3 linked regions of the Homo sapiens genome follow. The protein of the gene in region 1 interacts with the protein of each later gene in a biochemical or structural test. Each region holds a gene or a part of one and is shown in the gene's direction. Other genes may lie near its edges.

What was found. The genes of interacting proteins can lie anywhere in the genome.
Region 2: of the proteins of AMOT (region 1) and LATS1, one has a biochemical effect on the other in vitro, tested with the Homo sapiens proteins (one study listed by BioGRID).
Region 3: the proteins of AMOT (region 1) and ARHGAP17 form a complex in vitro, tested with the Homo sapiens proteins (one study listed by IntAct).

What each region holds. Positions count from the first base shown.
Region 1 is NC_000023.11:112,809,113-112,817,294, reverse strand, and holds part of AMOT (angiomotin), read left to right. Parts: intron 1-1,417; coding exon 1,418-1,937; intron 1,938-5,901; coding exon 5,902-6,046; intron 6,047-7,308; coding exon 7,309-7,401; intron 7,402-8,182.
Region 2 is NC_000006.12:149,672,511-149,680,101, reverse strand, and holds part of LATS1 (serine/threonine-protein kinase LATS1), read left to right. Parts: coding exon 1-227; coding exon of another isoform or gene 228-235; intron 236-1,356; coding exon of another isoform or gene 1,357-1,420; intron 1,421-3,364; coding exon 3,365-3,547; intron 3,548-3,735; coding exon 3,736-3,842; intron 3,843-7,591. UniProt on the Homo sapiens protein: Negative regulator of YAP1 in the Hippo signaling pathway that plays a pivotal role in organ size control and tumor suppression by restricting proliferation and promoting apoptosis.
Region 3 is NC_000016.10:24,920,779-24,928,369, reverse strand, and holds part of ARHGAP17 (rho GTPase-activating protein 17), read left to right. Parts: intron 1-637; coding exon of another isoform or gene 638-645; exon of another isoform or gene 646-686; intron 687-7,591. UniProt on the Homo sapiens protein: Rho GTPase-activating protein involved in the maintenance of tight junction by regulating the activity of CDC42, thereby playing a central role in apical polarity of epithelial cells.

The sequences.
Region 1 (8,182 bases):
TATTCCGCCAAAAATGAGAAGACCCCAGTATTTTTGCAATTTATTTGTGACCTCAAGAATAAAATGGGCTCATGCAGATTAAGTAACTTGCACCAAGTTACACAGCTCGTGAGCAGTAGAAGAGGTCTCCAGACTCCCTCTGTTGGGATCCAGATCCCATGCACTTAGCCATCTGTCTTCCCTGGATTGAGAAATATCAACTGTAGAACAAGTGTCCACAGGACATGGGAGCATATGAGGTTAATTGGGCATGAGCTAGGGCATGAACAAGCTTTTTGTCTTCAGTGCACACTGACAGATACTATTCCTGGTAGTGGTGATGGTGGAAGTGATCCATCCACATACTAATTGTTTCCCTTAATGGCTAATAGTCATTAGGTATGAATTATTTATACTTAGGTGTTAGCATTTTGTACCTGGTAATTAGGTACAAAAATGGGAGAGCCACATTAAACAATGTACCAAAGGTCTCTTTCTGGAACTTTCTATGAGCAATAGGTTGGAAATCTAAGTATCAGTGCACAGAAATCAATGCATTATGGCAGTAGAAAAAGCCAGAAAATGGGAATTGGGAAAGAAGGATTCTATCTTGGCACCACCACTCTAATATTTGGCAGATGACTTCCCCTTTCTGGACCTCATTCCCCATCTGTCCAGTGATAGAGTTGAACTAAATAATTTTCTTTTAAGGCCTTTCCAGTTCTTACATTTTGCGATTCATTACATCAAAAATAGTATGTTAGCATTGCTTGTAACCCTCTTCAAGTCTTTTTATGGTTACTGCTAATGGGAATCATTAAATCGTTAACAACTGGAAGCAACAATAATCATTTAGTGTCTCTAATATAAGTATCTACCAATCCTTGAATAGTTTTTTTTCTTTTTTTTTGTGAATGTATGAATTACTAAAGGGAGTTGCAGATAGCAAGATGGGGGTGGTTTTTATGGCTGTTTGTTGTTTCCATCCTGGCAAATGGAACATAGTTTCTAAACTAGGATCTTTATGTGTGCTGGACCACGTGTATAATGTCAGAAAAGGTTTAATTTAAAATAATGAGATGAAAATTACCTTGTAGAAGAATCGTTTGAAATGTTTAGACTTGAGCAAACGGGTGTACAGGTGTGTATCACTACGATTTTCACAAAGTGACCATGGAAGTTGTCTGGTTCTGACCCTCATGGGATCACACCTCTGTTTGTCAGGCAGAGGCACAGAAGGTCAGGCTGGAAAAGGGCTGTGGTCTTTGCAGAGATAGAGCAGGCAGGGTTAGACTTCCCCATAGTCAGACCCTGCCTGCTCTTCATTTTGCAGGTGTCCTGGGGGCATCAGAAGCCTCCTCATCTCACTTTTGTGTGCCCTTCTCCCCCAGTGCCTTAGGAGAGAAATTAACCCGCACCTGCCCTTCATGTTTTACAGGCCAGCGCAGGACATCTCATTGCCATTGTCAGCCAGGAACTCGCAGCCTCACAGCCCTACTTCTTCTCTGACCTCTGGGGGGTCCTTGCCCTTGCTACAATCTCCACCATCCACTAGATTGTCTCCTGCCCGACACCCCTTGGTCCCAAACCAGGGAGACCATTCAGCTCACCTGCCTAGGCCGCAGCAGCATTTCCTTCCTAATCAGGCTCACCAGGGGGATCATTACCGTCTCTCCCAACCTGGCCTGAGTCAGCAGCAGCAGCAACAGCAGCAGCAGCACCATCATCACCATCACCACCAACAACAGCAGCAGCAGCAGCCACAGCAGCAGCCAGGAGAAGCCTATTCAGCTATGCCTCGGGCTCAGCCATCCTCTGCTTCTTATCAGCCAGTGCCAGCAGACCCTTTTGCCATTGTTTCCAGAGCCCAGCAGATGGTTGAGATCCTCTCAGACGAGAACCGGAACTTGAGGCAAGAGTTGGAAGGATGCTATGAGAAGGTGGCAAGACTGCAGAAGGTGAGGCTTCCGTTTTGGGATATTAGGGTCTCTAAGTCTTTATTTGTGAGACTTGTTTAATATCCACATTAAAGTCTCCAGTTGTGAATCCCAGCATTACTTGTGGCAGGTCTTCAGGATTTTTATATCTGAAGGTTAGATATGAGTCAAACTTTGGAAAAAGCCTTCTACCTGTCTACCTAGGAGAAGTAACGTCTTACATTTACACAAGGAGAAAAAAATTTATGCAGTTTTTCCAGACGCTATAGCCCTAAAGAAAACGTGATTAATTCTTTTAGAATTCCAAAAGGCAGTGATACTTCTTGATAAGAATACTGGTGATGCCTTTATAGGTAAAGGATCTGACGGCACCTTAAGGCTCATTGTCTTGGTCACATTTTCCCAAATATGAATTTGAATCTTAAATATAAAAATAAATGTAGTTCCTAGAAAAATCTCACCAGCTAAAGTTTGAGCAGTCCTGCCTTGTTCTGGAAAAGGCTCAGAATACTTTTTCCTAGTGGGAGTTCTCATAGTAACTCTCTTTCAACAATCCCTCCACCCCACCCTTTGATTTGGTCCCTCCCTGCAGCTCAAATTCAACATCTGCTCTCTTTCTCTGTTGTATGTGGGGGGCAGGAGGGGCTTAACACCACAGCTGGGTGACAGGTGACAGCCCTAGGCTGAGGAAATAGAAAAAGGAGTGTATCTCCAGTTCACATTCTTCTCTGCCCACCCCCATTGGGACTTTACCTCTGGAGTACCCCAAGCGAGGAACCTTAGCTCTTGGCTTCCAGGGGCTGCTGGTGAATAGGGTTATGCCTTTGGCCGCTTCTTTGCAGCTTTTGTCATTGTGGAGCTATTGTGGTTTGGTCTCCCTACAATGTGAACTGTTCAGAGAGGTGAGGGTGAAGGTGGGGGAGGGACAGGAGGATGCCTTGTATTGTCCAGCAACTCTGTCCTTAGGAAACACCAGGAGTGAAAATTTCAGAGGCCTGAATGAAGCTGAGTATTTGTAAACAGACACCAAATCTGGGGGCCTCAAGGAGACAGGGGCTTATTATCAGCAGATGATTTTTTTTCTTTCTTTCTTTTTTTTTTTTTTTGAGACGGAGTCTCGCTCTTGTTACCTAGCCTGCAGTGCAATGGCACGATCTCCACTCACTGCAACTTCCGCCTCCTGGGTTCAAGCAGTTCTCCTGCCTCAGCCTCCTGAGTAGCTGGGATTACAGGCATGTGTCACCACGCCTGGCTAATTTTGTATTTTTAGTAGAGACGGGGTTTCTCCATGTTGGCCAGGCTGGTCTCGAACTCCCGACCTCAGGTGATCCGCCCGCCTTGGTCTCCCAAAGTGCTGGGATTATAGGCGTGAGCCACTGCGCCTGGCAAACAGAGGATTTTTATATAGGAAAATGGCTTCCCTGTCCCTTAGTTTTCCTAAATCTGGATGAGGGTTGTTGGAGTGCTCTGAGAATTGTTTCTTCCCGGCTTTTCCCTGATTTTGTATTTTCACCCGCAAATTTTAACTATATCCCTATCCCCATCGCTTTGGTGAAATAAATTAATTATATCCATACACTAGAAACCCAGTCTGGCTGATTAGGCTAACAGTTGACACCCCCTCTCCAAACTCTCTCTTCATGGTGATCCCAGCCCATCTTTGATACAATCACTGAAGGATGAACCCAGCTCTAATACGGGCCCTTTTTGCCAGAGGATCCATGGTGATTTTTTGTGTGTGTGGGAGTGGGTTCAGCCAGTGACAGGGAAGAGGGACAGAGAATAGGATTGCTGTTGTTTGTTCCCCAAGATGGGAAAAGATGCCTCAAATAAGTGTAACTGGAACAGCTTGAATGTTGGGAAAGTAGAGGCTGACCCAGTGTCGAGGTAGAGTAGAGGGGAAGGTGGACCAGGAGAGGAAAAGGAAAGTGGGGAAAATTAAGGTAGATCCCAGGTAGTGCTGGAGGAAATGAAAAGGCCTGAGGCTCATGAGGGGAATAAGTAGACAGAGTAAGTCTGGAAAACCCACTGCCACCCTCCTCTCTGCCCCCACCATCACCCAGCCCAAACCAGTGGATATATCCTTCTGTGATGGCTTTTCCTGGAAGGCCCTATTGAGAGCTGTGGGACTTGCCCTTTTGAAGGATGGAGTATCTACACAGGGGGTAGGGGAAGGATTAGTACAAGATCTTGAAATAGCAGTCTGCACACCTTGAGGAAAGGGACTACCTTCTAGGTGTTGCATTCTGTGCACAACCGGACAGCCTTGAACTATAAATGCTGCCCAGAGCAGACCAACACCAAGCCTGCTCTTTCAGATGGAAATGTTTATTTTCTCTCCCCAGCGCTTGAGTTTCATGCAAAAGCTTCATCAGGCGCAGGCCTTGCAGATCTTGTCTCTAAATGCCATTCACCAGTTTTCACCTTCTGTGCTGCTATCTTGGTGCCATCTGTGAAGAGAAAAACACTTTTGAGTCTGCTCTTTTCTGTGGCATAAGCCTTATTTGTTTGCAGGCAGTCCTGTCTCTGGCAGAATTTTGGAGATGGAGGCGGGTTGAATCTGACTGGTTTGGCAACCTTACCTTTCCCCTAGTGTCCCATTAGGGGCCTGATATTTCTTCCCTGAAAGTACCCTGAGCTTTGTTAAACAGGATAGTGGAAAACACAGAAGCAATGCAGAATGGTTGCAGAGTCCAATTTAATCTGAAAATTGCTTAATAGACCGTGGGTTTATTTGTCTTATACAAATTATATGCAAATATCTGTGTGGCTATTATATGTGCAATGGAGCTATACTAGTTACAGAAAAACTCTGGAGTCTAATTTCTCATTTTCGGCCTGATTGTGGCTGATTCAGGGGAAGACCCTTTCTCTCTGAGTTTATTTTCCCCATTTTATGAGATTTGCAGGGGTGTCATAAAACACAACTCTGATTATGATTTTGTGTTCAAAAACCTATACTGGTTTCCCATTGACTATGGGATAAAGTCCAAATGCCTGGCATTAAAAGCATTTTATGATCTGACTCCAATCTATCTTAGCAGCCATATCTCGCCAGGTTCCCTCTGCGTACCCCACAGTGTCCAGCCAAATTAAACGACTGGTCATTCTGGGAATGCATTTGCTTACTCAGAATAGAATACCCTTCCCCTCACCTCTGCTCATTGAAATCTGACCCAGCTTTCAGGATCTGACTGTAAATGCCACCTCTTCTCAGAAATTGTTCTCCTCCCCACTTCCCCAACCAGGAATAACTTCTTCCTTGTCTGTACTTTATGGCACTACTTCTACTTTTCTTAAAGATGTATCTTGCCCTATAGTCTTTCATTCGATTGGATTGAAACCTCCCTGAGGGCAGTGAGAATGTTCTCATTCATATTTACACACCCCCAATAGTACTTTAAAGAGTTCGTGTAAATATTTGGCCCTTGGTAAATGTTTGTTAAATTGAACTGAACTACTTCATGAAGCTTGGGGTTTTTAGGGTTGGTCTCTGCTGCTGACAGTTGATCTTCAGAGGCAATTTGACTTTTCTCTCTACTAAAATGAGAAGAGGTATCCTGTCTAGGCAGATAATCAGTGCAGACTGGAACCAACATGTGAAAGCCCTTTGAATGCTTTGGAATATCTACATACTATATATATTATTACTAATATTTTCAAAATTAAGAGTTTTCTTCAGAAATTAAAATCCTTTATAACTATTTATAAAATTTATTCTATCTTACCATCTCCTCTGAAGGCAGAAATTGTCTATTTTTTTAACCCGAGGAAAGACCATGACACCATGAGTTAATTACTAAGCTTATGGTTGAAGGTGGAGATCCTTTCTTGAAACTTGTGTCATCTGACTGTGTTATGCTTGCCTCCTGGCCATCTGTGAGCCCTGGGAGAAGCTGTCAGCGAGGATTTGCCTGTTTGTTTTCAGACCATTTTCCCCATCACCCTCCTACCATCACCACCATTGTCTTTTTTTGTTGTTAAGGTGGAGACAGAAATCCAGCGCGTCTCGGAGGCATATGAGAACCTCGTGAAGTCATCCTCCAAAAGAGAGGCCCTAGAGAAAGCCATGAGAAACAAGCTAGAGGGCGAGATTCGGAGGATGCATGATTTCAACAGGGATCTGAGAGGTGAGGGAACCAACAGACTTGTCTTTGTACTTCTGAAGCAGCTGCAGGGTGGTGAAGGGAAGGGCTGAGCAGGATCCAACTAGGCTCTTTGGGGTTGTCCAACCCACCGGTATGGGCAGTAAATGGCTGGGCATGTGCCAGGCTAATTTTTTGTGACTGCAATAGTCCTCAGTCCCAAGCTTGATTGATCAAAGTGTGGATGTACCTCACTGGTCTTCTGAGCAATGAGCTGATGTGTTAATCAGGCAGGATCCCTGCTGGGACTCCTGGACCCACCTGGCCCACCCCCACAATAGGTGCTGCCTCTTCTTTTTAACAGGTTTTACAGAGGCGTGCCCTTTGACTGCAAGCTTGAAGTATAATGTCCTCTCTTATTTCCAGGACTGACTGACTCCTTTTATTTTTGACTTTCACCTGATAATATTGAAGACTTTGGGAAATATTTCTACTTTAAAGTGCCTTCAGCACCTTCAAAACTGCTAACCTTGGGGATGGTACTTTCTTTTTTTTTTCCTTTTTCTTTTCTTTTTTTTTTCTTTGAGTTGGAGTCTTGCACTGTCGCCCAGGCTGGAGAGCACTGGCATAATCTCGGCTCACTGCAACCTCCACCTCCCAGGTTCAAGTGATTCTCCTGCCTCAGCCTCCTGAGTAGCTGGCTGGGATTACCAGCGTGCGCCACCATGCCTGGCTAATTTTTGTATTTGTAGAGATGGGGTTTTGCCACGTTGGCCATGCTGGTCTTAAACTCCTGACCTCAGGTGATCCACCCACCGTGGCCTCCCAAAGTGCTGGGATTACAGGCATGAGTCACTGTGCCCGGCCAGGGATGTTACTATCTTTGAATTTTGGTTATTTTATCTTTAAAGTCAGGGGGCCCAAATACATGCTGCTAGTTGTCCCTTTCAACTTTGACATTACATGAGTTTAAATACTTTATAATAACTGTGATACTCTTTTTTTTCTGGTTAATGAAAGATATCTTTATATATTTGGGGATGGATAATTTCATTGAAATTTAGAATTCTGCACTTAACTTAGGTTTTGGCAGTGAGGAGTGAAAGCATTAAATACTTACCTCCTCCTCCCCGGCCATGGTCTAGTATTATTTTGGGATTCACATTTGCAAACTCATGTTAGTCACCCATTCCTGTTTAACAAGAAGAAACAGGCTTGTTTTACCAAAGGTCAGTATTTAGAGGGCCAATAGTATGTGCATGAAAGTTTACATTTGAGACCCTGTTGATTGTCTCCAAATTTCACAGAGCGTCTAGAGACTGCCAACAAGCAGCTTGCAGAGAAGGAATATGAGGGGTCAGAGGACACCAGAAAAACCATCTCGCAGCTCTTTGCAAAAAGTAAGTCTGCAAGCTGCAGAAACAGGTATTAACGTGTGGATGGGAGCAAGGTGCGTGAAAAGATTACACTGTTCTCTTTAGCCTTTTAGAACAGCCAGGGCAGAGTCAATATCACCTAAGGATTGTTTTTCCTATTCAGGCATGAAGTTGGAAGATTCTGTTCTTTTCCTCCTAAGCCAAGAAGGCTGCTTGCCACAACATCTCGTCACATCACATTGGTCCTTCAGCATTAAACTAGAGAAGCCCCTTGAAATCCCTGCTAGTGTCATTGCTATCTAAATAAAGAGGCTTACTGAACATGAGGTCCCTTCATGTTGAAGGGATTTTCTTAGAAGAAACTGTGTGTTGGCTCTGGTAGAGATGGGATTAATATGCAGGATCGATGATAGTGTTTGGAATACTTCACCTGTACCTGGGGCTCCCTAGTATTTATTGTTACACAGCAGCAGATTGCAAGGGGAGCTAATCCTATGGCCTGAACTAGTGACTCTGGCTGCAGAGTTGGAGGATGTGGGGGAGGGCAGAGCTGTGTCTTCCTCATAATAGTGTTTCCTTTGTCTGGAAATACTCCTAGGACCATGACAATGAATTAATCCTTTTCTTTATCAGTGTCTAATGGACCCCACCCAGCTAGACAATGTCTAATTATTTCCAATTGCCTTAATAAAACCAGCAATAAAAACTTCATAGTGGATTGAGTCCACAGGGAGAATTAGTCGGGGGGAAACATGAACTGCTCTCATTTCTGCAGATGCCGGTAGCTAGTTTCCTCTACCCCCAG
Region 2 (7,591 bases), on another chromosome or scaffold:
TATGATGAGCCTATTAATTAGAATGGGCATCTTTCCAGAAAGTCTGGCACGATTCTACATAGCAGAACTTACCTGTGCAGTTGAAAGTGTTCATAAAATGGGTTTTATTCATAGAGATATTAAACCTGATAATATTTTGATTGATCGTGATGGTCATATTAAATTGACTGACTTTGGCCTCTGCACTGGCTTCAGATGGACACACGATTCTAAGTACTATCAGAGTGGTAAGTAAACTCATAAAATTTATTTTAGTTTGTTCATAATAATGTAATTTATTGATGTAGTAAAATATAAGATGGTATCATCACTGGATGAGAGCCAGAAGATGTGGGTCAGGTCTTGATTCTGTTGGATAAACTTGGGTGACTCCATTAGGCACTTAGACTTATGAAATGAAAGAATGTGCTAGACTTGATTGTTTAGACTTATGAAATGAAAGAATGTGCTAGACTTGATTGTTTCTAAATATTATTAACATTTTTGAGTCACACCTTTTACATTTTATTTGAAAATATGCCAGACAAACAATTTTTTTTTTTTTTTTTTTTTGATGGAGTCTCGCTCTGTCGCCCAGGCTGGAGTGCAGTGGCACCATCTTGGCTCACTGCAATATCCCCCTCCTGGGTTCAAGTGATTCTCCTGCCTCAGCCTCCCGAGTAGCTGGGATTATAAGCACCTGCCAGTACGCCCGGCTAATTTTTGTATTTTTAATAGAGATGGGGTTTCACCATGTTGGCCAGGCTGATCTCGAACTCCTGACCTCAGGTGATCCACCTGTCTCAGCCACCCAAAGTGCTGAGATTATAGGTGTGAGCCCCCTGCGCCTGGCCAAAAACATTTTTAAAATAATTTTTTAATGAATCCTCATATCCAACATTCAGTTAAAGAACTAGATTATCAGTACTTTAGAAGCCCTTAAACAATCACTTCCCCTTTTCTCCTCCACAAAGATAATTATTATTTCAGAACTTTATAATCGGTTCTTTACTTTTATCGATCCTTTTATCACAAATGTGTATATCTTTAAATAATATATTATTTCATTTTGCCTACTCTTTAACCTTTATTTAAATATAATCTATATATATTCTTTGTGTTGACTTGTTTGAGGTTCCTCCATGTTATTGCTTGTAACATTTATTTTCACTACTATTTAGGATTTCATTACATGACTGTTACACAACTTATATAACCCTAAACACTTTATGATCCTTGATCCTATTTTATCCTCACAATGTCACTGTGAGGCAGGATGAAGAAACTGAGACCTAGTTAGATGAAGTAACTTGCCCAAGGTCAGACAGAAATCAAGTGTAAGGGCTAGGCTTTGAACCCAGGTTTGTCTGATTTCAGGGCCCATGTTATTTCTACTACACCACACTGCCTCACCAAGATCCCTCCAAGCGCTAATGGAAGTGTAAGTCAATCTAACATTTGTTAAATACTATGTACTAGGTGCTTAACCATATATTCTAATATGCTCGCAACAATTCTCTGAGGTAAGTATTATTAGCCTCCTGTGCTTCTGTGAACACAAGTAGATTGACATTAAAATGGGTAGAACTGAGACAATTGAACCTACTTTAATGTTCGACATAGTGGAATTTAGTGTCTTCCCAGATTCGACTGAATTATTACCTGGAAAGCTTCTTAAAAATATGATTCCTAGGCTCTATTCCCATCTTTTGATCAAAAATCTTCACTGGGGCATAGAAATCTTTTTGTTGTTTTTTGTTTGTTTGTTTGTTTGTTTTTGAGACGGAGTCTCGCTCTGTTGCCCAGGCTGGAGTGCAGTGGCGCAATCTCGGCTCACTGCTAGCTCTGCCTCCCAGGTTCACGCCATTCTCTTGCCTCAGCTTCCCGAGTAGTTGGGACTACAGCCGCCGGCAACCACGCCCGGCTATTTTTTTTTTTTTTTTTTTTTTTTTTTTTTTGGATTTTTAGTAGAGACCAGGTTTCACCGTGTTAGCCAGGACGGTCTCAATCTTCTGACCTCATGATTTGCCTGCCTCTGCCTCCCAAAGTGGCTGGGATTACAGGCGTGAGCGACCACGCCCAGCCTGTTTGTTTTTTTTTTTTTGAGACGGAGTTTTGGTCTGTTGCCAGGCTGGAGTGCAGTGGCGCGATCTCGGCCCACTGCAACCTCCATCTCCTGGGCTCAAGCGATTCTCCTGCTTCAGCCTCCCAAGTAGCTGGAATTACAAGTGTGCTCCACCACACCCAGCTAATTTTTGTATTTTTAGTAGAGATGGGGTTTCACCATGTTGGCCAGGATGGTCTCAATCTCTTGACCTCATGATCCACCCTCCCTGGCCTCCCAAAGGGAAATCATATTTTAATCAAACATCCCAGATAAATATTACAGTTAGGTTAATTTCTTATATTCTAGGTGACTTCATGCCATCTATATGTCAATGAATTCCAAATCTCTCTCTCCAGAAATGGCCTTTCTCTGAAATTCGTAATTTCTCTATCCAGCTGCTTCCTGGCTATCTTCACATGGATTTCAAATAGGCCTTTCAAACTTCACATGACCCATAAAGAACTTTTTTTTTTAAGCATAAATCAGATACTGTTATCTTCTTGCTTCGAACTCTGCAATATCTTCTCACTTTACTTGAGGTAAAAGGCAGACCATTTCTATTGCTTGCAAAACCCACATGTATTCCTGCCGCATTTCTTACAGTTCTTGCCCCATTTCCTACAGTTCTCCCCTTTATCAGCTGTGCTGGTCTTCTCTCTGTTGCTGTTATTTCTGTGTGGAATACCTAATCCTGATTTATAAATGGTTGAGTCCTTCTTGTTTTTTTACGGTTTAGCTGAAGTCACCTTCTTAACTGGTCTTCCCTAGCCATTCAGTCTTATGTAGCTATCCAGTCACATTTGTTACATCACCCTGTGTTGATTCTCTGTGTAGGGTATGTCACTGTTCCTTATATGTGTAATTGTTTTGTTTCTTTTCCTACTAGAATGTAACCAGAGCTTTGTCTTATTATCACTGTCATTTATTGAATGAAAGATGGATCTAATTTGTTTGAAAGTTTGTCCAGAGTAGTAACAGGGAGTGGGCTAAATAACAAACTCTTAATCTCCCCATGACTCATATTGTTGTTATTTAACATTGCATAAATTACTAAATCTTAGGCTAATTTTTTTTAAGTGTAAAATCCTTCCTATTGACATCTCAGAAAATAGGCTCTAATTGGTAATAAACACCATCAGTGATTTGGCATACATTGTGTCTTAGTTTGTCACAAGGGAGAATGTTGTTAACCCTAAACCACGATGTCAGAAGATTAAATAGACTTCAGGTTTACTGTTGTCATTGTTGACTTTATTTACTTATTCTTTTGTTGTGCAGGTGACCATCCACGGCAAGATAGCATGGATTTCAGTAATGAATGGGGGGATCCCTCAAGCTGTCGATGTGGAGACAGACTGAAGCCATTAGAGCGGAGAGCTGCACGCCAGCACCAGCGATGTCTAGCACATTCTTTGGTTGGGACTCCCAATTATATTGCACCTGAAGTGTTGCTACGAACAGGTAAAGCACTTCTTTCATATATATTCTCAGTAGACCTTTAGACCAGCCAAAACGACACTAGAATATGCCTTATTTTTCAGGCTTATAATAAAAGTATTAATTTTAAAGTATAAATTGGTGATTTAATGTTAATTTTTATTGTATTCTGAGCATTTTTAAAGTGCTTATAAATAACTTTGTTATTTTAGGATACACACAGTTGTGTGATTGGTGGAGTGTTGGTGTTATTCTTTTTGAAATGTTGGTGGGACAACCTCCTTTCTTGGCACAAACACCATTAGAAACACAAATGAAGGTAAGGTATGGCATCTATATCAAAAGAATTCTCACAAAGTTGCTACATCATTGACTTTTATTTATTAGTACGTAGAGCATTTTAGTCTGGAGTTAAAGAATGAACTTGGGCCGGGTGCAGTGGCTCACACCCATAATGCCAGTTCTTTGGGAGGCTGAGGCAGGAGGATTGCTTGAGCCTAGGAGTTCAAGATCAGCCTGGCAACAATGTGAGACCACATCTCTACAAACAAATATTTTTTAATTTAAAAAAGGAAAAGAATGAACTTGTAAGGGTATAGGAACTCACCAGAATTGCATGCGTGAACTCCAGTCTCCATGATGCCATATCCCCATAATCTTGTATCCCCCCTCACTCATACAGCATACTCATATATCATATATCATTCTCAAAAAGGTCTTTAGGCCAGGCACGGTGGCTCATGCCTGTAATCCTACCACTTTGGGAGGTGTAGGCGGGTGGATCACCTGAGGTCAGGAGTTTGAGATCAGCCTGGCCAACATGGCGAAACCCCGTCTCTACTGAAAATACAAAAATTAGCGGGGTGTGGTGGCAGGCGCCTGTAATCCCAGCTACTTGGGAAGCTGAGGCGGGAAAATCCCTTGAACTCAGAAGGCGGAGGTTGCAGTGAGCCAAGATCTTGCCATCGCACTCCACCCTGGGTGAAAGGGCGAAACTCCTCAAACAAAACAAAACAAAACAAAAAGGTCTTTAGTCCATTTTGAAGATTTAGTCCAGTTTACTCTTTGTCACCTACTGCCTCCTGGCCTTGTCTCCTTCTATGCAAACTACAAACAAATGTTTATATCCCCACTTGAAAATACCTCTGGCACTTAAATGAGAAGTTACCCACAATTTTGACCATACACTGTCTGATTTAATACTCTTTAGTGATTGTCCGTGGGTTAAAGTTGAAATTTGCCCTCTGTTCATACCGTTCCCTCTGTCTGGAATGTCCTACTTCCATCTCTCTCTTCTATAACCCTTCCTCCTTTCTGAAGTCTAATTAACTCTTGGTCATTCTCTCTTTTTTTTTTTTTTTTTGATACAGAGTCTTGCTCTGTCATCAGGCTAGAGTGCAGTGGCGTGATCTCAGTTCACTACAACTTCTGCCTCCTGGGTTCAAGCAATTCTCGTGCCTCAGCCTCCCGAGTAGCTGGGATTACAGGCATGCGCCATCATACCCAGCTAGTTTTTGTATTTTTAGTAGAGACGAGGTTTCACCGTGTTGGCCAGGATGGTCTCAATCTCCTGAACTTGTGATCTGCCCGCCTCGGCCTCCTGATCATTCTTAATTATTCTTTGAGGGCCAGACATGATGGCTCATGTCTGTAATCCCAGCACTTTATTTATTTTGAGATAAGGTCAAAACATTTCACCTAGGGTGTAATGCAGTGGCGTGATCTCCTCTCATGCAACCTCTGTCTCCTGGCTCAAATGACCTATCTCAGCCTCCTGGGTAGATGGGACCGCAGGTGCATTTTTTTTTGTATTTTTTGTAGATACAGGGTTTTGCCATGTTGCCCAGGCTGGTCTCAAACTCCTGGGCTCAAGTGATCCACCCACCTCAGCCTCCCAAAGTGCTGGGATGGGTGCAGTGGTTCACACCTGTAATCCCAACACTTTGCAAGGTCGTGGCAGACAGATCACTTGAGCCCAGGAGTTTGAGACCAGCCTGGGCAACATGGTGAAACCCCCTCTGTACAAAAAATACAAAAAACTTAGCCAGGCATGGTAATGCATATTTGTGGTCCTAGCTACCTGGGAGGCTAAGGTTGGAGGGTCACTGGAGCCTAGGAGACGTTGCAGTGAGCCATATTTGTGCCACTGCACTCCAGCCTAGGTGACAGAGTGAGATCCCATCTCAAAAAATAAAAAATTTGGCTGGGTGTGGTGGCTCACACCTATTATAATCCCAGCACTTTGGGAGGCCAAGGCAGGTGGATCACCTGAGGTCAGGAGTTTGAGACCAGCCTGGCCAACATGGTGAAACCCTGTCTCTACTAACAATACAAATATTAGCTGGGTGTGGTGGCGCGCCCCTGTAATCCCAGCTACTTGGGAGGCTGAGGCACGGGGATTGCTTGAACCCAGGAGGCAGAGGTTGCAGTGAGCTGAGATCACACCATTGCACTCCAGCCTGGGCAATAAGAGCAAAACTCTGTCTAAAAAAAACAAATTATTCTTTGAGAGTTTCCTGAGATTCCATCGTTTCTTTGATTTCCACCTTTCTTAAGCTATAACTTCTTCAGTCATTGCATTTAATATAGAAATGGTTTTACATTAGCCGGGTGTGGTGGCTCATGCCTGTAATCCCAGCACTTTGGGAGGCTGAGGCGGGTGGATCACCTGAAGTCGGGAGTTCGAGACCAGCCTGACCAACATGGTGAAACCCCGTCTCTACTAAAAATACAAAAATTAGCCGTGCATGGTGGCTGGTACCTGTAGTCCCAGCTATATGGAGGCCCTGAGGCAGGAGAACTCCTTGAACCTGGGAGGCAGAGGTTGCAGTGAGCCGAGATCGCGCCATTGCACTCCAGCCTGGGCGACAGAGTGAGACTCTATCTCAAAAAAAAAAAAAGGAAAAAAAAGAAATGGTTTTACATTTTAAAACTTCTTTTAGGATTTTTTATAGTATAGGTCTGCTGATAAGGCATTCTCTCAGGTTTGTCTCAGGTATGTCTGAAATTATCTTTATTTTGTCTTCATTTGAATATATTTGTGTGTAGGTGTATGAGAGAGAGAAAAAAAATTGTATGCTTTCTCCCTAAGGTTGAGAACAAGGCAGGAATGTCCATTCTCATCAATTCTATGTTCTGGAATCTTAGCCAGCATAATACAGCAATGAAAAGAAATAAAAGGGCTGGGCGCGGTAGCTCATGCCTGTAATCCTAGCACTTTGGTAAGCCAAGGCGGGTGGATTGCTTGAGCCAAGAATTGGAGACCAGCCTGGGCAACATGGCGCAACCGTGTCTCTACAAAAAAAATAGAAAAATTAGCCGAGCATGGCAGTGTGCACCTGTAGTCCCAGCTACTCACGAGGCTGAGGTGGGAGGATCACCTGAGCCTGGGGAGGTCAAGGCTGCAGTGAGCCATGATTATACCACTGCACTCCAGCCTGGGTAATAGAGTAAGATCCTATCTCAAAAAAAAAAAAAAAAAAGAAAAGAAAAGAAAAGGAAGAAGTAAAAAATAAAAACTTCCCCTATTCAAAAATGATATAATTTTCTATATAGAAAATCCCAGGGAATCTATAGGTGTAAAGTACAAGAATAACACATAAAATCTATCCATTTCTTCGTTGTTGTTTTTTTTGAAACAGAGTTTCACTCTTGTTGCCCAGACTGGAGTGCAATGGTGCTATCTTGGCTCACTGCAACCTCTGCCTCCTGGGTTCAAGTGAGCCTCCTGCCTCAGTCTCCTGAGTAGCTGAGACTACAGGCATGCGCCACCATCCCAGTTAATTTTGTATTTTTAGTAAAGACTGGGTTTTACCATGTTGGTCAGGCTGGTCTTGAACTCCTGACCTCAGGTGGTCCACCCACCTCGGCCTCCCAAAGTGCTGGGATTACAGGCGTGAGCCACTGCGCCCGGCCAAAATCCATCTATTTCTATATTTAAGCAATGAAAACTGGAAACTAAAATTTAAAAGCAATACCATTCACAATAGCTCCTCTGACATAAAATACTTTGTTATAAATCTAGAACATGAGCAAGATTTGTATGCAAATTGCTACTGAAAGAAATCA
Region 3 (7,591 bases), on another chromosome or scaffold:
CCCGAAGATACTAGCTATTTAAAAACCGGTCTATGCTATGAATTCTCCTAACTCAAGAAATTCCAGGTTACCAGAGTTATCTTTGTATTACAGAATTAACCTGTACTATCTTAAAATCCCCTGGCCTCCCACTGAAAGTACACAGAAGGCCAACATTTAGAATTTTTTAATCTGCTAGTATTGATCATACTGCTATTAACCATTCTTGGATGTAGCCATTGGGTTTTTCAAGGAGGAAAAAATATATAACTTCCTTGGACAGGATGGTCCTTTATTATGACATAATGTTTTCACTTAGAAAACTTTAGATGGACAAATTCCTGAAAACAGGTTATTCCTTTAGAATTGGATTAAGTTAGAGTTTTAAAGAGTTGGGTTAAGGCTAATGGGATTAAGATAAACTCTTGGGGGGAGATTATTGCTGCCAAGCAGGTTTGGCAGCCAACTTCTCACAGCTCAGCACCAGCACTGGAGGATGCCGGCATTCTGGCATCATTTTGAGTCTCCTGTTAATTGTGACTCTAGAGAGCAGTAAGAGTTTTAATTCCCATGTAAAAGAGTTTACATCTTGCTATTTTTGAAGTAATAGATTTTAGCAAAGAGTATTCTAATTTAAACATTTTATTAAATAATTTAGATGTATGACCTGCCATATTCAGTAAGAACTGAGATTGGAATATTTAATGGTAAGGAAAAGGCACCTGATTGGCCAATGCATTTTTGCTACTTGATGATCATATTTGTGCACTCATGCCTGTTACTAACTGGCCACCCTAACCCTGCCTGCTTGCATCCCTACTAATAGTGCATGCACTGAAGGAGGACTGGCTTTGTTGATGCTTGCTGCAATGATTCGGAATACTAAGTGTGTACCCAGATGTGGAACAGGTGGTCACAGGGCTGTCCTTGTTACTTCTTTAATTTCCATTCTTTTCCATATCAGGCAAGCTTGAGGTATAGTAGGAAGAACACACATTATGGAGTCAGACCTGACTGAGTTAGAATTTCAGCTCTTGGTATAACATAGGCTAGGCACAACCTGGCTGATCTGTAAAGTGGTGACATCTGTCTAAATTGTTGAAGATGAAATAAGAGAAAGTCCAAGATTATTCTGTTAGCCAGTTACAGTTCTTAATATACGCGCAATCTCGGCTCACTGCAAGCTCCGCCTCCCAGGTTCAAGCAATTCTCCTGCCTCAGCCTCCTGAGTACCTGGGATTATAGGCGCCTGCCACCACATCTGGCTATTTTTTTTATTTTTAGTAGAGACGGGGCTTCACCATGTTGGCCAGGCTGGTCTCGAACTCCTGACCTTAGGTGATCCGGCCTCCTCAGCCTCCCAAAGTGCTGGGATTATAGGTGTGAGCCATTGTGCCTGGCCTGCTATTTATCATTTTTATCTAGAAGAAAATAGTTTTAATCAGATTTCTATGTTAGATTCACATATCAGGGTTTTAAAAACTCATACGCCCGGACCCGGCCTTCTAGGACCCAAACACAGGAGACTGGGGGTGGAACCCAGGTATCCATATTTTGATTCTGATGCACCACTTGGTTTTTTGAATCTCACTTCTTTCATGGGTTAAAAAGACAATGCTCTGCAGAAGGAGATAACATATACATTCATATAATTTAGTGAGCCTGAGACTGTCTGTGAGGCGTTAGTCCACTGTACCACAGATAGACCAAATCACTCACAAAGTAGCCATAAGCCTGGACACTTTGCTGGCTAATTTCATAGTGTTTGCTTTTTAAACTCTCACCCTTCTTATGTCATGTAAGTAATGCCTTTTTAAAAATAAGCATGAGCTGGGGCACGGTGGCTCACGCCTGTAATCCCAGCACTTTGGGAGGCTGAGGCGGGTGGATCACTTGAGGTCAGGAGTTCAAGACCAGCCTGGCCAACATGGGGAAACCCCATCTCTACTGAAAATACAAAAAGTTAGCTGGGTGTCGTGGTGGGTGCCTGTAATCCCAGCTACTTGGGAGGCCAAGGCAGGAGAACTGCTTGAACCCAGGAGGTGGAGGTCGCAGTGAGCTGAGATCGTGCCACTACACTCCAGCCTGGGTGACAGAGTGAGACTCTGTCTCAAATAAATAAAAATAAGCATGGATATTAAAACTCTTGAGAAATGGAAATAATAAGAAATCAACTGTAGCTATACAATTGAAAAAGTCTGCCATTTATATTCTACTTTTTTTCTTTTCTCCTCTTCTCTTCTCTTCTCTTCTCTTTTCTTTTCTTTTCTTTTTTTTTTTTCAGACGGAGTCTCACTCTGTTCCCCAGGCTGGAGTGCAGTGGCACGATCTTGGCTCACTGCAAGCTCCGCCTCCTGGGTTCACACCATTCTTCTGCCTCAGCCTCCCGAGTAGCTGGGACTACAGGCGCCCACCACCACGCCCAGCTAATTTTTTGTATTTTTAGTAGAGACAGGGTTTCACCATGTTAGCCAAGATGGTCTCGATCTGCTGACCTTGTGATCTGCCCGTCTCGGCCTCCCAAAGTGCTGGGATTACAGGCGTGAGCCACCACACCCGCCCCTTTTTTTCTTTTAGTTTTTCTAGAAGGCAAGGAGGTACATGAGCATAATTATTTGACATAGACAGATTTGGATCCTTTTATTTCACTTTACATCATATGCTCGTTCTCATGTGATAATGTAATTTTTAGAACCATGTTTTTCAGTGACTACATAATGTTTCATCAACCAGATGTATTATTACTCCTAGTTGGATATTTAAGTGGCTTCTGTTTCTACTTGCAGTTTATTTTTAATAAGTAGATAATCAGAATTGTGTCAAGATAACATCCAGTGAGACTTGAACAGAATCACTCCTGAATAGTTGACTCAGAGTCTCTAATAGCCCTAGAAAACTGACGAGAAATCATCAGTTCCTGATAAAATTACACAATTCTACTTCAACCAAAGAGGATCAAAGCCAGATTGGTTGGACTGTCATTCTTCTGTTTATTTATTTTGTGTATTTTTTGAGACAGAGTCTTGCTCTGTCACCCAGGCTGGAGTGCAGTGGTGCAATCTTGGCACACGGCAACCCCTGCCTTCCTGGTTTAAGCAGTTCTCTTGCCTCAGCCTCCCAAGTAGCTGGGATTATAGGCAGGTGTGGCAACACCTGGCTGATTTTTGTATTTTTAGTAGAGACAGGGTTTTGCCATATTGGCCAGGCTGGTCTCCAACTCATGACTTCAAGTGATCCACTCACTTCTGCCTCCCAAAGTGCTAGGATTACAGGCATGAGCCACCGCACCTGGCCCCATCATTCTTAATCACCCTAACATTTTCCCTCTTTCCCAAAAGAGTTGTGTATATCCTTGGGTGAGGATCCTGAAAGTGAAGACATTATCTGAGGAAATAATGGTTTGGGTCTTAAACACTCTGGTTAGAGCTAAGTTTATATGACAGGTATTACATTGTAAAAAGGAGAAAAAGGTTATTTTAGAAAGACACCTGTTAGAACCTGCTTTTTTTTTTATTTTTTTTTATTTTTGAGACTGAGTCTTACCCCGTTGCTCAGAATGGAATGCAGTGGTGCGATCTCAGCTCACTGTGACCTCCACCTCCCAGGTTCAAGCGATTCTCCTGCCTCAGCCTCCTGAGTAGCTGGGATTACAGGCACTCACTACCGTGCTCGGCTAATTTTTGTATTTTTAGTATAGACGGGGTTTCACCATGTTGGCCAGGCTGGTCTTGAACTCCTGACCTCAGGTGATCTGCCTGCCTCGGCCTCCCAAAGTGCTGGGATTACAGGCATGAGCTACCACACCCAGCCAGAACCTGCTTTCTAAAAGCACCCTAAACCTCTTTGGTTGTGAATTTATATATTCTCTGCCTTCCAAGGGCTGGTCTTTGAGGATATTGCTTGGAACTAAGTTCATACAGTAGATATTTTATTTAAAAAAAAAAAAAACAGAAAAGAGACCTCCAATAAAAGGTTTCTTTTTTGTCTGATTTTTTGCTTTTTTTTAATTTTGAAATATAATACTTGTCATATAAACTTAGCTCCAAGCAGTATGCTCAAAGACCAGCCCTTCTTGGAATGCAAATAATATATAAATTCATAGCCAGAGACGTTTAGAGGTGTTTAAAGAAAACCAGGTTCTTACAAGTGTCTTTCTAAAATAACCTTTATCTCTTTTTTACAACAATCAACCAGAGTGTTTAAGACTCAAACCGTTCACTGGTGAAGGAAGGCATTCCCTGAGACTCTAGGTCTGAGAAGAGGGATGGGTGGTGGAGAGGGGGAGGGAGTTTATTCGCCCTGCAGTTGTGCCTGCACCACTTACTTTCAAGGGCATATTTGGATCTGTTACTTGTCAAAGTGGCTATCAGAATCACCTTGGACTTCTTGAAGGGTGAGTTCACAACCGAGAAAGCACATATTCAAAATTGTTGAAGTAATAAGTAAATCTTCTAGAACCTTACCCTCAGTGATAACATTCCACTTCTAGCTCTTAAATACCCACTTCTGTTTCCTGGATGAGATACTCAGTGCAGGAAGGAACCTGGGTTACATTTGTCAGAGCCCCAAATCTGAGATGAACTGTATCAAGTTCTGCCTTTGGGCTGAGGCTGGTTACTGGAGGTCATCCTCTGTTTCTCTCTTTTTTTTTTTTTTTTTTTTTAAAAAAAAGAGAGACAGGGTCTTGCTCTGTTGCCCAGGCTAGAGTGCAGCGGTGTGATTCCAGTCCACTGCAGCCTTGACCTCCTGGGCTCAAGCGAATCTCCCAAGTAGCTGGAAGGTGGAACTAGAGGCATGCACCACCACACCCGGCTAATTTTTGTGTTTTTCTTATAGAGACGGAGTCTCATGTTGCCTGGGCTGGTCTCGAACTTCTGGGCTCACACCATCATCCCACCACGCCCAGCCTATTTTGTTTTTTTAAATACAATATCTTTTGTATGAACTTAGCTCCAAGCATATGCTCAGAAACCAGCCCTTCTTGGAGTGCAGTTAATATACGAGTTCATAGCCAGAAAGATTTAGAGGTGTTTCAGACAAACCAGGTTCTTACAGGTGTCTTTCTGAAATAACCATTTTCTCCTTTTTACAACAAACCAGAGTGTTTGTAAGACTGAAACAATGATCTTGGATAATGTCTTTGAAGGCCCTCACCCAGGGATTTACAGACTCCTCTGGGGAGGAGGGAAAATGTAATGCGAAGAGCCAGAGTGCAACCAATCTGGCTTTGATCCTCTTTGGTCCACACTGGCTGTGTCACCTTGGGCAAGGAATAGAGCCTCTGAGTCTCCCTTTCTTATTTCTGCTGCCTTAGGATTAGTTAGTGGGGGTTCAGTGAGACGATGTAATAAAGTGTGGGTGTATAGTACAGTCTCTGGTGTAAGTAAGTGCTCTATAGTAATGTCAGCTACTGAGGCTGGGTGTGGTGGCTCATGCTGGTAATCCCAGCACTTTGGGGAGCCGAGGTGGGAGGATTGCTTGAGGCCAGGAGTTCAAGACCAGCCCAGTCAACATGGTGAAACCTTGTCTCTACCAAAAATAAAAAAAATTAGCCAGGCATGGTGGCGTATGCTTGTAGTCCTAGCTACTCGGGAGGCTGAGGTGGGAGGATCAGTTGAGCCCAGGAGGTGGAGGCTGCAGTGAGCTGAGATTGCACGACTGCACTCCAGCCTGGGCAAAAGAGCAAGACCCCATCTCAAAAAAAAAATTTTTTTTTTTAATGTTAGCTACTGTGATGAAGTCTCTTTCTGAAAACTGGTTCTGTACAGGTTGCCGTAATTCTTTCTACTTTTTGTGTGTAAACAAAGTCATTGTTTCTTTCAGGGACTGATTCATGTAGGAATAGAGAGGGGCTGGGGAAACCAGATGGGGCAGGTGGGCGGCAGAGTAAGGGATTTCCTTTATGCCCCAAAACACATTTTTTCCCCTTGAATTAATAATGTGTGTGGATCATAAATAGAAAAATTCAGAGAGGCACAAATCTAAAAATTATGTATATGTGATGTATAAGAAAAAGAGAGCAGCTGTGGAGGGGCTTGGTGGCTGATAGGCGTTAGCTTGCATGTGAATACAGATATTAACAAGTAGAAATCTCATCCGTATACACAGTGCCTTTGCATCATGCATTCCCCGCCAAGTCATGTCGGTTCCATAGTTTCTGGTAAACTCTGGGCTGAGAAGAGACACGGGCTGGTAGCCCCTTCTGTTTTTGGGGGCCAAGATAATGGGGAAAGGATTGCATTTGCAGTGATTTTCTTATACGTCGTCTTCAAGTCACAGCTACTTCTTTGCCTGAGGATGTAAGAATGGAGGATTGGAAAGATGGTTGCTCTAGATGACTCTTCATGCATCCATCCAACCATCCAAGTGTGCAGCTACAAAATTTCTTGAACATCTGCTATTTGCCGGTCACTGTTTTAGGTACTGAGGATACACTGTGAACAAGACAGACACAGTCCCTGCCTTCGTTGACTTCTGTTCTGCTTAGGACAAATCCAAGACAGCCCCTATTCTGTGCATACAGACCACCTTTGGCTGCACCATAGGCTGGTGCAGTTCTGCACAGTGTCATTGGTTTTATAGTTATCACAAGACCTGAATTGTCTGAAATGACATTCAGCACCTGAACTCTTTGACACTTTGGCACCTCCATAAATCTAGAAATTTCTCTGAGTTGTGGTGCATAGGAAACCTTGAGGGACAACCCAGGAGTAACTGTGAGAAAAAGGGTGTCCCAGGGAGTAAATAGATCTCACAGCTCAGAACTGTAGGGACAGGAAGGTGGAAGGGGTAGGAGCTGGAACAAGTCTCCAAGCAGTGAGCTTCCCCAAAGTGCACCAGCGTTTTCAAGCTGTGCCTGCGTAGACGGGAGCAGGTCGAACAGAAATATAGTCAAAACTAGCTCCCGTCAAGGACAGACAGGATGTCATTTTGCACCACAGCAAGTAGGGGAAAGCAGCTCTCAAGCCTAACTGTGAAACGCCCCCACAAACCACCTCCTCCTCCCACTCCCTCACTGCTGCCTGCCATGGCTACCTCTAACGCAGCAAAGCAAAACTACAAAACATCTCTCTTCTCTCTTACACCAGCCCTAAAATACCTAATGAGGCTCTCATAATTTGCCAGAACCCACATCTACGAGAGAAGCCAGCCCTTTTGTCTTAATTAGGATCCCCTTGGTCTGCCCACTTGACCGTGGGCTTCATTGAGGCTGTGCCTGTCTTGTTCAGTGCTGCGTCCTCAGCAGGTAGAATGGTGCCTGGCACCTGGGAGGTGCTCAGTAAATATTTGTTCATGCATAAATGAATCTGAGACCCACTGGCCTCTGGGAAGAGCATAGGAGAGGGGGACAACAGCATGAGGACCATATGTTTGCCATCTTGCTGAAGGAATTTCAGCCAACATAATAAGACATGAAAATGGCATTCGAGGTGTATTAGACAGACAAGGGGATGTTAGTGTTTGCAGGAGACTTGGTCTGCCTCAGTGATGTCAGTCAGCAGTGATTGTGATTCCCCAGGGGACACTCGGCAGCATCTGGAGACATTTTAGTTTAAACTTCCCCAGTGATCTGTGATGTACAGGAGACACTTTCGGTTGTCACACTGGGGGA